Regions from separate parts of the Homo sapiens genome. Here region 1 is reported to be linked to region 2. The links are microRNA targets in miRTarBase. Many come from high-throughput screens and were not tested one by one. Region 2 holds a microRNA gene; the other region holds the end of a gene's coding sequence.

What was found. The annotated mature microRNA hsa-miR-548ae-5p reads AAAAGUAAUUGUGGUUUUUG and lies in region 2 at 2,706-2,725, shown strand. An mRNA with a match to its seed (bases 2 to 7 or 8) in the 3' UTR can be bound and repressed. Matches are read on the target gene's strand: a 7mer-m8 pairs with bases 2 to 8, a 7mer-A1 pairs with bases 2 to 7 and ends in A, and an 8mer does both.
Region 1: miRTarBase lists FOXN2 as a target of hsa-miR-548ae-5p. Seed matches in the 3' UTR shown: 7mer-m8 at 1,160-1,166, 7mer-m8 at 3,470-3,476 and 7mer-A1 at 3,697-3,703.

Annotation. Positions count from the first base shown.
Region 1 is chr2:48,374,757-48,379,756 of GRCh38, forward strand. It overlaps FOXN2 (forkhead box N2), which reads left to right. Exons shown (of 7, transcript NM_002158.4): 7 at 164-4,539. The coding sequence ends at 687. Among named protein-coding and RNA genes, the nearest start is that of FOXN2, 63 kb to the left of the region's middle.
Region 2 is chr5:58,527,630-58,532,809 of GRCh38, reverse strand. It overlaps MIR548AE2 (microRNA 548ae-2), which reads left to right and starts at 2,701; the gene lies at 2,701-2,767. RefSeq lists enhancers at 1,373-1,981, 2,003-2,504.

The DNA.
Region 1 (5,000 bases), not on the chromosome of region 2:
ATGCTTGCAAAATGATGTGATCTGGGTAAAAAAAAATAAAAAATCTACAAAGCATCATGAATCTAAAACATTTGTTGCTCAAGAGTAATGTAGTAGTTTAAAATTGGTCTGTTTTTGCAACCAAACACATTTGACCTATTGATGGAACTTTTATTTTCCACAGGTGAGAAGCCTCTTCCTCTTAAAACAGCATTGCAAAAAAAGAGGAGTTACGGCAATGCATTTCATCATCCCAGTGCTGTACGATTACAAGAGAGTGATTCTTTAGCCACCAGCATTGATCCAAAAGAAGATCACAATTACAGTGCAAGTAGCATGGCAGCACAGCGTTGTGCATCCAGGTCTAGCGTGTCTTCCCTGTCTTCTGTGGATGAGGTATATGAATTTATCCCAAAGAATAGTCACGTGGGAAGTGATGGCAGTGAAGGATTTCACAGTGAAGAAGATACAGACGTTGATTATGAAGATGATCCTCTTGGAGACAGTGGCTATGCATCACAGCCTTGTGCAAAAATCTCTGAAAAAGGGCAGTCAGGCAAAAAGATGCGAAAACAGACATGTCAAGAAATTGATGAGGAGCTCAAAGAGGCAGCTGGATCTCTGCTCCACCTTGCTGGAATTCGTACATGTTTAGGTTCCCTAATAAGTACTGCAAAGACACAAAATCAAAAGCAACGGAAAAAATAGAAATACTTAAAGTGTGGCAATACTCTTTCACTTAATTCTTTACAAGGGATATCAAAGCCATAATGGACTTCATTAGTTTTAGGGTAGGGAAGGGATACTAATTACTTATTTCTTTCAAAACATTTTTGGTTTTTGGTTTTTAAAATTTTTATTAAACAATTGCTGTTAGGATCATGCCTGATCAGAAATACATGATGTGAAGTCCTAAAAGCATAATTTTTGTGATAAATGTGTCCAAGATTTGAAAATTTTTATATAAGAAAATCCCCAGCCTCTGTCTTAAACTTGTGGGACAAAAATCCTTTCTTCTGTTAATATGTCAGAATGTAAGATTTGGCAACTCGATAAATTTTTTTCATTTTCTTTTCCAATCTGTAACTATAGTTACTGAACCAGCTAAAAATTTTGCTGATGTATTTTTCATATACTTCTCTCCTGACACGCAATCCGGTAACATAAGATTGAAATTTTTTTACTTTGTCTTAATTTGTTTCTAATTTTTTTTTTGTTGTCGTGTGAGCAAAGACAAACATAAATTGAAAAACATCCTGATGTTTAGAAAGTTTCTTTTGGTTACGTAGGTAGAGAATACAACAAAGAGTTCTAAGACTTAGAAAAGACAATTTTGTGGTGTCATTTCATCCAAGAACACTCCCAATTCCTATTAGAATGGTAGCTTTGAAGTGTTTTTACTTCAGAGATCCTGCATAGCATTTATTGGGGCCTTTTATTCTTTCCCAAAGTGCTTTGCAAACATTAAGTTTTAGCCACTAGCTGCCTTTGTTGAGTATAAGTTATCCAGTGAGAGGATATAGCCAATTAAGTGTGTTATGGAGTACACCCATTTTGACACACTTGTAATAAGAGAATCTTTCATTTGCCTGCCATGTGTACTGTATTATGAGAATCTTATAATCGGAATGGAGTGAAATGAAACATTTTGAGTACTGATGGCATGTTATCATACATAAAGTAGGTCATTTAGGAAAAAACTTCTGTCCAAGCTTTGTATGAATTAAATTCATAAGTATACCAAATTAAATCTTAATAGATTTAATGCAATTTTACAGACACAATACCTTCATGAATTTCAAAATTCATATAAAATTTGATCTTATGCAATACACCTTTTTGAGGAGGCAGTGTAACAACCTATAGTGCCATTGATCCATGAGAAAAAGATTTTCTGGTACTACTCCAAAAGTGCTTTGACTAAGTATCTTAACTATTTGAACAGTCTGCTTATATGAGACAGTTTTTCATAGTATCATTTGTATAATTTGATTAGATTATTCAGAAACAATAGGATGCTAAACTAATTCATTGTATCTTTTTTTTACAATGGTGGAAGCAACTTTCTGAAAGTTCAGTCTTATGCTACATCCTAAGTCATAGACAATGACCTTGTTTTCATTATTCTGATAGATTGTATACATATGTACACATACATATACACATATGCACAGTCAAGGTCATGATGTTGATTTGCTTTCAGCTGTTTCTGTGATTATAAAGCATTTTTTAAGAGACAAATTTTAACTTTTAATTTTTATTTTGGCAAAACTGTCAAATGAGAAAAATGATTTTAAAAACTTTTTTTTCAATTGACAAGACTTTAAGTCAGGGATAACAGTATTAATGTTCTCTGTTCTGTTTCCATGTTAAATTTAATTTAACCTGGATAGCCACATTAATGAATTGGTGCTGTCAAAATATAGTAATTTTTAAATTTGTTAATAATGAAAACCCTTAAGCATGCAGGATGAGGTATTTGGGTTTTTTTTTTAGATCGATCACATCTACAGAAAATGGCTAAACCAAGTTAACTTTTATTATAGACAGTGAATAAAACACCAAAAACCCAAAAATGCTTTAACCACAGTATAAATAATAGATTATACACATCATCTTAATAACTATTTTTAAGTTATTTACCATAGCCTCTGTATAGACCTTAGGAACAGTGTTTCAGTGATCTGGCACCAGTTTATTTTGTTCTGCTGAAATTCTGTATCACAAATGTGCTACCTGGTTTTTGTCCATTAGATAATTACTCTTTATAAGGAAAGGAAAGAGAAGCAGAGTTAGTTCCAGCTCTAATAGGGATCTTCAAAGTTATTTTGTCTTGATGTATGTAACAGTAATTCTTTACATCTTTTGATTTTTCTCTTCCTTTTTATTCACTCTTCCCACGAATTTAAATGTTTAAGTTATATTCATCACTAGCAAGGATGATAAACACTTGTGCACTGAAAGCTAACAGGGAGAGGTTACACAATATTTTACAGTTTCTTAAACATAATTTAATGCATCACCTTCCACTTGCTAACATACCAAGTCAGTTATTTTCAAGGGAAGAACCTTTTAAATTATGGTCCTCCATTTACTACTTCCACTGAGAGTATGCTCTCATTCCTCAGGTGTTTTGAGAAACATGACTAATAACCACACAATTAAGTAGAGTCATTCCAAGTCCTATGGCCTGGAAATTGTATTCCCTATAATATACAAATTTTCCTGTAATAAAGTCAACTTAGAAACTCCAAGGAGGTTACATGTTTTCCAACATATCCTAAAAACTGTGATATAAGCTAACATATAATTTGCCTTACGTCAAAAGAATATGTTTTGTTGCAGCTGATTCCAGTTTATAATAGATCCCTAGTAAAAAGCTTTGATTCAACACAATTGTTCATCTTCACATCCCAAACAGAATCACTGTTTCTTGAATATATATTTTTGAAGTTTTTTTGTGCAATATATTACTAAATCAGTTATTATTTTACTTTTCCAAATTCAGAGAAAGAAAACAGATTACCTGAATTCATGGAAAAGGTGGATCACCTCCCTTTTTCCACCTTCAAGCCTTTCCTGTCCTCATAGCCAGCATGACTTCTTTTAACTTGGATTCCTTTGTATATAGTAAAGTTTAGTATATATATATTTTTTTCTTTTTGCTACTTTCTGAGGCATTATGTAAAGGGCTCATACTAGATGTTCAGTTAAATATACTTTAGCACAAAGTCAAACTAGAGAATGTGTTAAGGAGGGAATGTATATGTCTTGGTAGACCAGGAGGCCTTTGCCAGCAATTTAAGCAACAGATGTGAATACTTCACAAAGCTGTAAAGACCATTGTCTTAAATACTACAACAACTTAACACCCTTTTGTGAAGATCACAGCATTTATCTAAGAAACTGTGAGGCTTTCTGGTTTACATATATCTTACAGGTGTTTTTTTGTATTTTTTTTTTTTTTTAGTTTGAAATGTGTAAGCTTTGATTTAAACCAAGTTTACTTCAGTATGTTAATGATGTAGTAAAAATATTTATTGAAAGGTGAATTCGAGTATTTTAATGTTATACCTGCCATTTTTTTTCTTAAAGCATATTCTTTGCATCTAACTGCCAGTGCCATTGTCAAAACTTATTTTTTAAATCGTTGTACATTTCTTATTAAACTAAGTGCTTAATTTTAAAGTATTATGTTGCCATCATATAGTGTATAAAAATGTATAATTGCCAATTGATTGTAACTATTATTTATTTTTAAATGAAAGTGTAAGAATGCTTTCTGATTCAACAAATTTGTTATCAAACTGTTTCCTTATCCTCTTTTCTGATGTAGCATAAAAATTGTCCCGGTTTGAGTTATAACTGCCAGTAGATGACCAGTCACAAGTGAACCACTTCTCAGTTGCCAATCTTTGCTCATATTAAAAACAACTTACAAATACTTAGTTTTTGTATCTAATCTCTGATTATTAAAATGTTTATAAAGTTTATTTTTACCAAAGAGATGCAATTCATTATGAGAAAGTATTGCATAATAAATTTTGTTTTATAACTTTTTTTGTGCTTTCTCTGATCTTTTGTAGGATAGGGTGGGACAGGAGAAGGATGGTAGGGCAGATGTGATGGCTATACTTCTACACACACTTTCCATTCAAATTGGAGTCAAGGAAATGAAAAATGCAGTTTAATTTCAATTTTTTTAAAAGTATTTTTTATGGTTTTTAGATGTTAATTACTGAAAGCTAAAATGACATTAATTAAATTACTATCTTCCTAAAGTTAAACTTCTTTTCCTATTAATTTACATGTATCTGAAATATTTTGAAATATAACTGGGAAAAATGGAGTAGAATATGAAACGAGCCTGGCCAACATAATGAAACCCCGTCTCTACTAAAAATACGAAAATTAGCCAGGTATAGTGGCGAACGCCTGTAATCCCATCTACCCAGGAGGCTGAGGGATGAGAAATGCTTGAACCCAGGAGGCGGAGGTTGCAGTGACCTGAGATCCCACCA
Region 2 (5,180 bases):
ATTAGTCTAGCTTGAAGCAAGGGCTAGAGAGCTCCAAATGAGAAGAAGAAAGGAAGAGAGGGAGAGAATAAAAATTAAAAATGGCAATTTTGGGGAAACAAAAAGCTATACAAAAGAAAGGATATATAGTCATAATTGGTTTTCCTATGGTGAATGATACATTGGTGTAGTAATGTAAATGTTTTGCATTACATTTAACTGCTATACAAAACACAAATGATGATGCTTTCAAAGGAGAATGTAGAAGTTAAAAAATGAAGTACATTTGATAAAGTGTGAAGCCAAGCCAAGCCTTCATTCTGCCAGTCTGCATGGCTGCAGGGTTAATACCACATGGAAACCCCCAAGGCTTACAGCCTGTGTTCTCCAAAATGGCAGCTTGAGCTGCACCTGAGTCCCTTTGACCTTGGTGGGAACAGGAGCTGCTAGCCAGAATGTGGAAAGCAGAGTCCCAAGGCTGTGTAGGGCAGTGGGGCCCTGGGCCTGGCCCATAAACAATTCTTCCTTCCTAGACCTCTGGGACTGTAATATAAGGGGATGCTATGAAGGTCTCTGAAATGCCCTTGAGGTCTTTTTCTCATGGTCTTGGATATTCGTACTTGGCTCCCTTTTAGTTATGCCAATATCACAAGTAAGGGGTTGCATCACAGCCTCCTTGAATTTATGTCCTGAAAAAGCTTTTTCTTTCTTTGCCACATGACTAGGCTGCAAATTTTCCAAACTTTTATGTTCTGCTTCATGTTTACATATAAATTCCAAATTTAAATCATTTATTTGCTCCTGCATCTGAGCATAGACTGTGAGAAGCAGCCAGGTTATATCTTTAACACTTTTCAGCTTAGAAATTTCTTCCACCAGACACCATAAATCATCACTCTAAAGTTCAAATTTTCACAGACCCCCAGGGCATGAAGACAATGCAACAAAATTCTTTGCTAAGGCGTGACATGCATGACTTTTGCTCCAGTTCCCAATAAGTTCCTAATTTCCATCTGAGACTTCATCAGCCTGGACTTCATTGTTCATATCACCATCAGCATTTTGGTCACAACCATTTAACCAGTTTCTAAGAAGTTTCAAACTTTCCCTCACCTTCCTGTCTTCTCCTAAGCCATCCAAACTCTTCCAACTTCTATCCATTACCCAGTTCCAAAGTGATGCCCATATTTTTAGGTATTTTTATAGCAATATCTCACTCCTTGATAGCAACTTTCTGCATTAGGGCATTCTTTCATTTCTATATAGAAATACCTGAGGCTGGGTAATTTATAAGAAAAGAGGTTTAATTGGCTCACTGTTCTGCAACCTGTAGAGTAAACATAGCACTGACATCTGCTTCTGGGGAGGTCTCAGAAAGTTTACAATCATGGTGGAAGGTGAAGGGGGAGCAGGAATCTCAAATGGCAAAACTGAGAGCAAGAGAGAGAGGAGATACAGGTGCCATACACTTAAGCAACCAGGTTTCATGAGAACTCACTCACTATCATGAGGAGAGCACCAAGCCATGAGAGGTCTGCCTCTATGAACCAAACACCTCCTACCAGGCCTAATATGGTTTGGCTTTGTCCACACCCAAATTTCATCTTGAATTGTAATCCCCATAATCCCCACATGTCATGGGAGGGACCTGGTGGGAGGTAATTGAATCACAGAGGTGGTTTCCTCATGCTATTCTCATGATGAGTGAGTTCTCACAAGATCTGATGGTTTTATAAGTAGCTGGCATTTCCCCTGCTGGCACTCATTCTCTCTCCTGCTGCCCTGAGAAGAGGTGCCTTCCATCATGATTGTAAGTTTTCTGAGGCCTCCTCAGCCATGTGGAACTGTGAGTCGATTAAAACTCTTTTCTTTATAAATCACCCAGTCTCTGGTATTTCCTTACAGCAATGTGAGAATGGACTAATTCAAGGCCCTACCTCCAACTTTGAGGAGTACATTTCAACATGAGATTTCAGCAGGGACAAATATCCAAACCATATCAGACATGTTTTCTTTGTACCAAAGATCAAAAACCTATCATCCATGCCCATATGAGTTGAGTCCACCTGAAGCAGCGTCTTTTCCCAATTGACACAAATATTCAATATGTATTCATAGGTGCCTTTAGGTGAAAGTAATGTGAAGGGAAAATAAATCTCGTAGCCCCACAATCACTAAGCTAAAGGGAAAAGTCAAGCTGGGAACTGCTTAAGGCAAACCTGCCTCCCATTCTATTCAAAGTCACCCCTCTGCTCACTGAGATAAATGTATATGTGACTGCCTCCTTTGGAAAGGCTAATCAGAAACTCAAAAGAATGCAACCATATGTCTCTTATCTACCTATGACCTGGAAGGCCCCCTCCCCACTTCAAATTGTCCTTCTTTTGCTTCAAGTTGTCCTGCCTTTTCTGGACTGAACCAATATTCATCTTACGTATGTTGATTGATGTCTCATGTATCCCTAAAACGTATAAAACCAAACTGCTCTGACCATTTAGGGCACATGTCGTCAGGACGTCCTGAGGCTGTGTCATGGGTGCACATCCTCAACCTTGACAAAATAAACTTTGTAAATTAACCAAGACCTGTCTAAGATTTTTGAGGTTCACAGTAATGATAGGGGCACTTAACTTAAAAATGTTAAGAGGTACTATTTATAGGTGAGATAATAAAAGGTTAAAGCATGCGATGTAATGTTACAATGGCAATTATTATTAGGTTTGTGCAAAAGTAATTGTGGTTTTTGTCATTTAAAAGTAATGGCAAAAACTGCAATTACTTTCACACCAACCTAATATTAAATAACATCTGTATATGTAGGAGGTAAAGGAGAGATCATGGATGGTAGTCAAAGTAAGCTAGCACCTCATTGATCACATGAAGACCCAATTAATTATGATATCCCCATATTTAGAAATGTGACAGTATCTATAAAAAGATCTAAAAACTGTTAAAAGTGGTTGCAAGTAGGGAGAGAAAATAGGGCTAGCAAAAGACGTGGGGCCAATTATTTCTTTTTACCAAAAGCTCTTCTATACAACTTGATTTTTAAAAAATGACTTTGGATGTATTATTTTGATAAAGTAGGTATTTTAAAACAGTACAAAAAGTATTTTAAATCACTATATTTTCTCTGAGCAATTTTTTTCTCTTTATTGTTATATTTTAAGTCTAGAAATCTGAAGATTAGAGGATATAGACATAGAGCAGGATCATTTAGTCAACAAAGATTATGTCAGAAAAAAATATGTGAAAGCGAAGAACGTTTAGTGGCAGATTTGTGTAGGAAAGAATAATAGTAAGAGAAAAACACAACAAACAATCTAGACAAAAAAAGGCAGGAAATTCAATTTTTTTTCATGTGATTATTCATGCATTCAAAAGACATTTATTGTGTACTTACTCTATGACAGGTGCTGTGATGATAAAAAAGTTGACCAAGAAATGATTCCAGACCTTTAGAAACCTGTAATTTTATAGGACTGGTAAGAATAGACCCCAGTATGGACAAGACAAGCCATGAAGTAAATATCACAAAACAGGTACAAACATAGTACTGGAAGAGTTCAAAGGAAGGGAATAACTCTTGATGTGACAAATTATTAATACAGCTGTTACTAAAAGTCAGGGAGACATTATAGGACAAGATAACCATGTAATGGCCAAACATCTCTATGAAAAAGAATGTTTTCCTCAATTTTTTAACCAGGGCTGGCTGCAGAATATTTGAAGGCATCTTACAGGCAAATATAAAAATGATTAATACTTTTGAAAATATATGCCAAAATAGTGATAGATGGTAAAAGTTCTCATGCCAGGAATATCTGTTGGACTTTTAAACACTCTTCCCAAACCACAGTCAATATAATAGAAACAATCCTTCTCTAAAGCATCAACTATTAATAAATGTGCCTGAACCAAAAAGTAAATCCAGCTTCTCACCAGCCTCAATGAAAGCATACTTCTGGGGCATCTTCTCTTTTTAAGGCCATGAAGCTTCCCCATGACACTGAGATATGATGTTAAGCAAAATTCAAGGCACCTTTAATGGGGTCAATAGAAGAGTCTTCTAATACAGTAATAATAAATATGGCATCTACTCTAACAACAAGACCAATGGCTAGAATTGTGATGTTGCCTTTCTTTTAACTTCCCAAGTAAAAGCTTCCATTGGTCATTTAATAAGGGTACTTTTATATCCCATTCATTTTTCCTTCTATGTGGATGGAAATTCCTTAGTTCTTCCCTTCCACCCTCTCACTCACTCTTCCAGGGATATTGGTGAGCAGGGAAAGAGAAACTGGACATAAATGTCTCAGGCCCTTTCCTTCTTTTTCCTCTTTAAGATCCAGTTGCTCACAGAAAATCACACATTTTACTTAGAATTTCTAAGCCCAATGTTTACAGGGGCAAGTTCTTACAAGGAAGGTTGGTGGATATCCAGTTGTGTTTGTGACTGGGTGTGTAAATCTTTCAATTTGTGGGTAGAGTATTAGGAAGCCCACTTAACTAACAGGACCCAAAACACATTTCTAATTAACCAATGTCAGTAAGAAATGATGGACTTTACTCTCTGTCTTCCTTATTCTTCTGATCTTCATAATCAATTCATAATTTGGATGAGGAAAGGGATTGGTATTTCTTGACTCCCCTCAAAACCCAACAATTTCTTACCAAATATACACAGGATGAAGCAATAAGCCTGGAACCATCAGAATATTATGTTGCACTAATGATACAATCAGAGCTACAAGCCTAGTTAATTATACATTAAGAGGTCACTCCATTTTTCCTATTCTTCCCCTGCCTTTAATGACACAGACACACAATCTGCTTTTTATTATTCCTGCATACATATATACATAATATACACATATATGTGTACGTACGTTTACATGTAAACTATGTATATATTACATACGATGAAACACTTCAAATAAATAACAAAAGAAGAGAAAATGGTATAGTGAACCCTATATACTTGTCACTCAGCTTCCACAATTAAAATAACTTTAACAAATGACCAATCTTGTTTAAACCACCTTTTCCCTCCAACTTTTCCCATTCATACCACTCACTCCCTATCTCTTCTCTCTGTGACCTCCAGATTCATTGACAGAAAATAGAAAAGTCGGAAAGATGAGAAGGATGAGTCTGGTGGTTTGGATACAAGTAGGCACTAGCTGAACCAGACACAATCC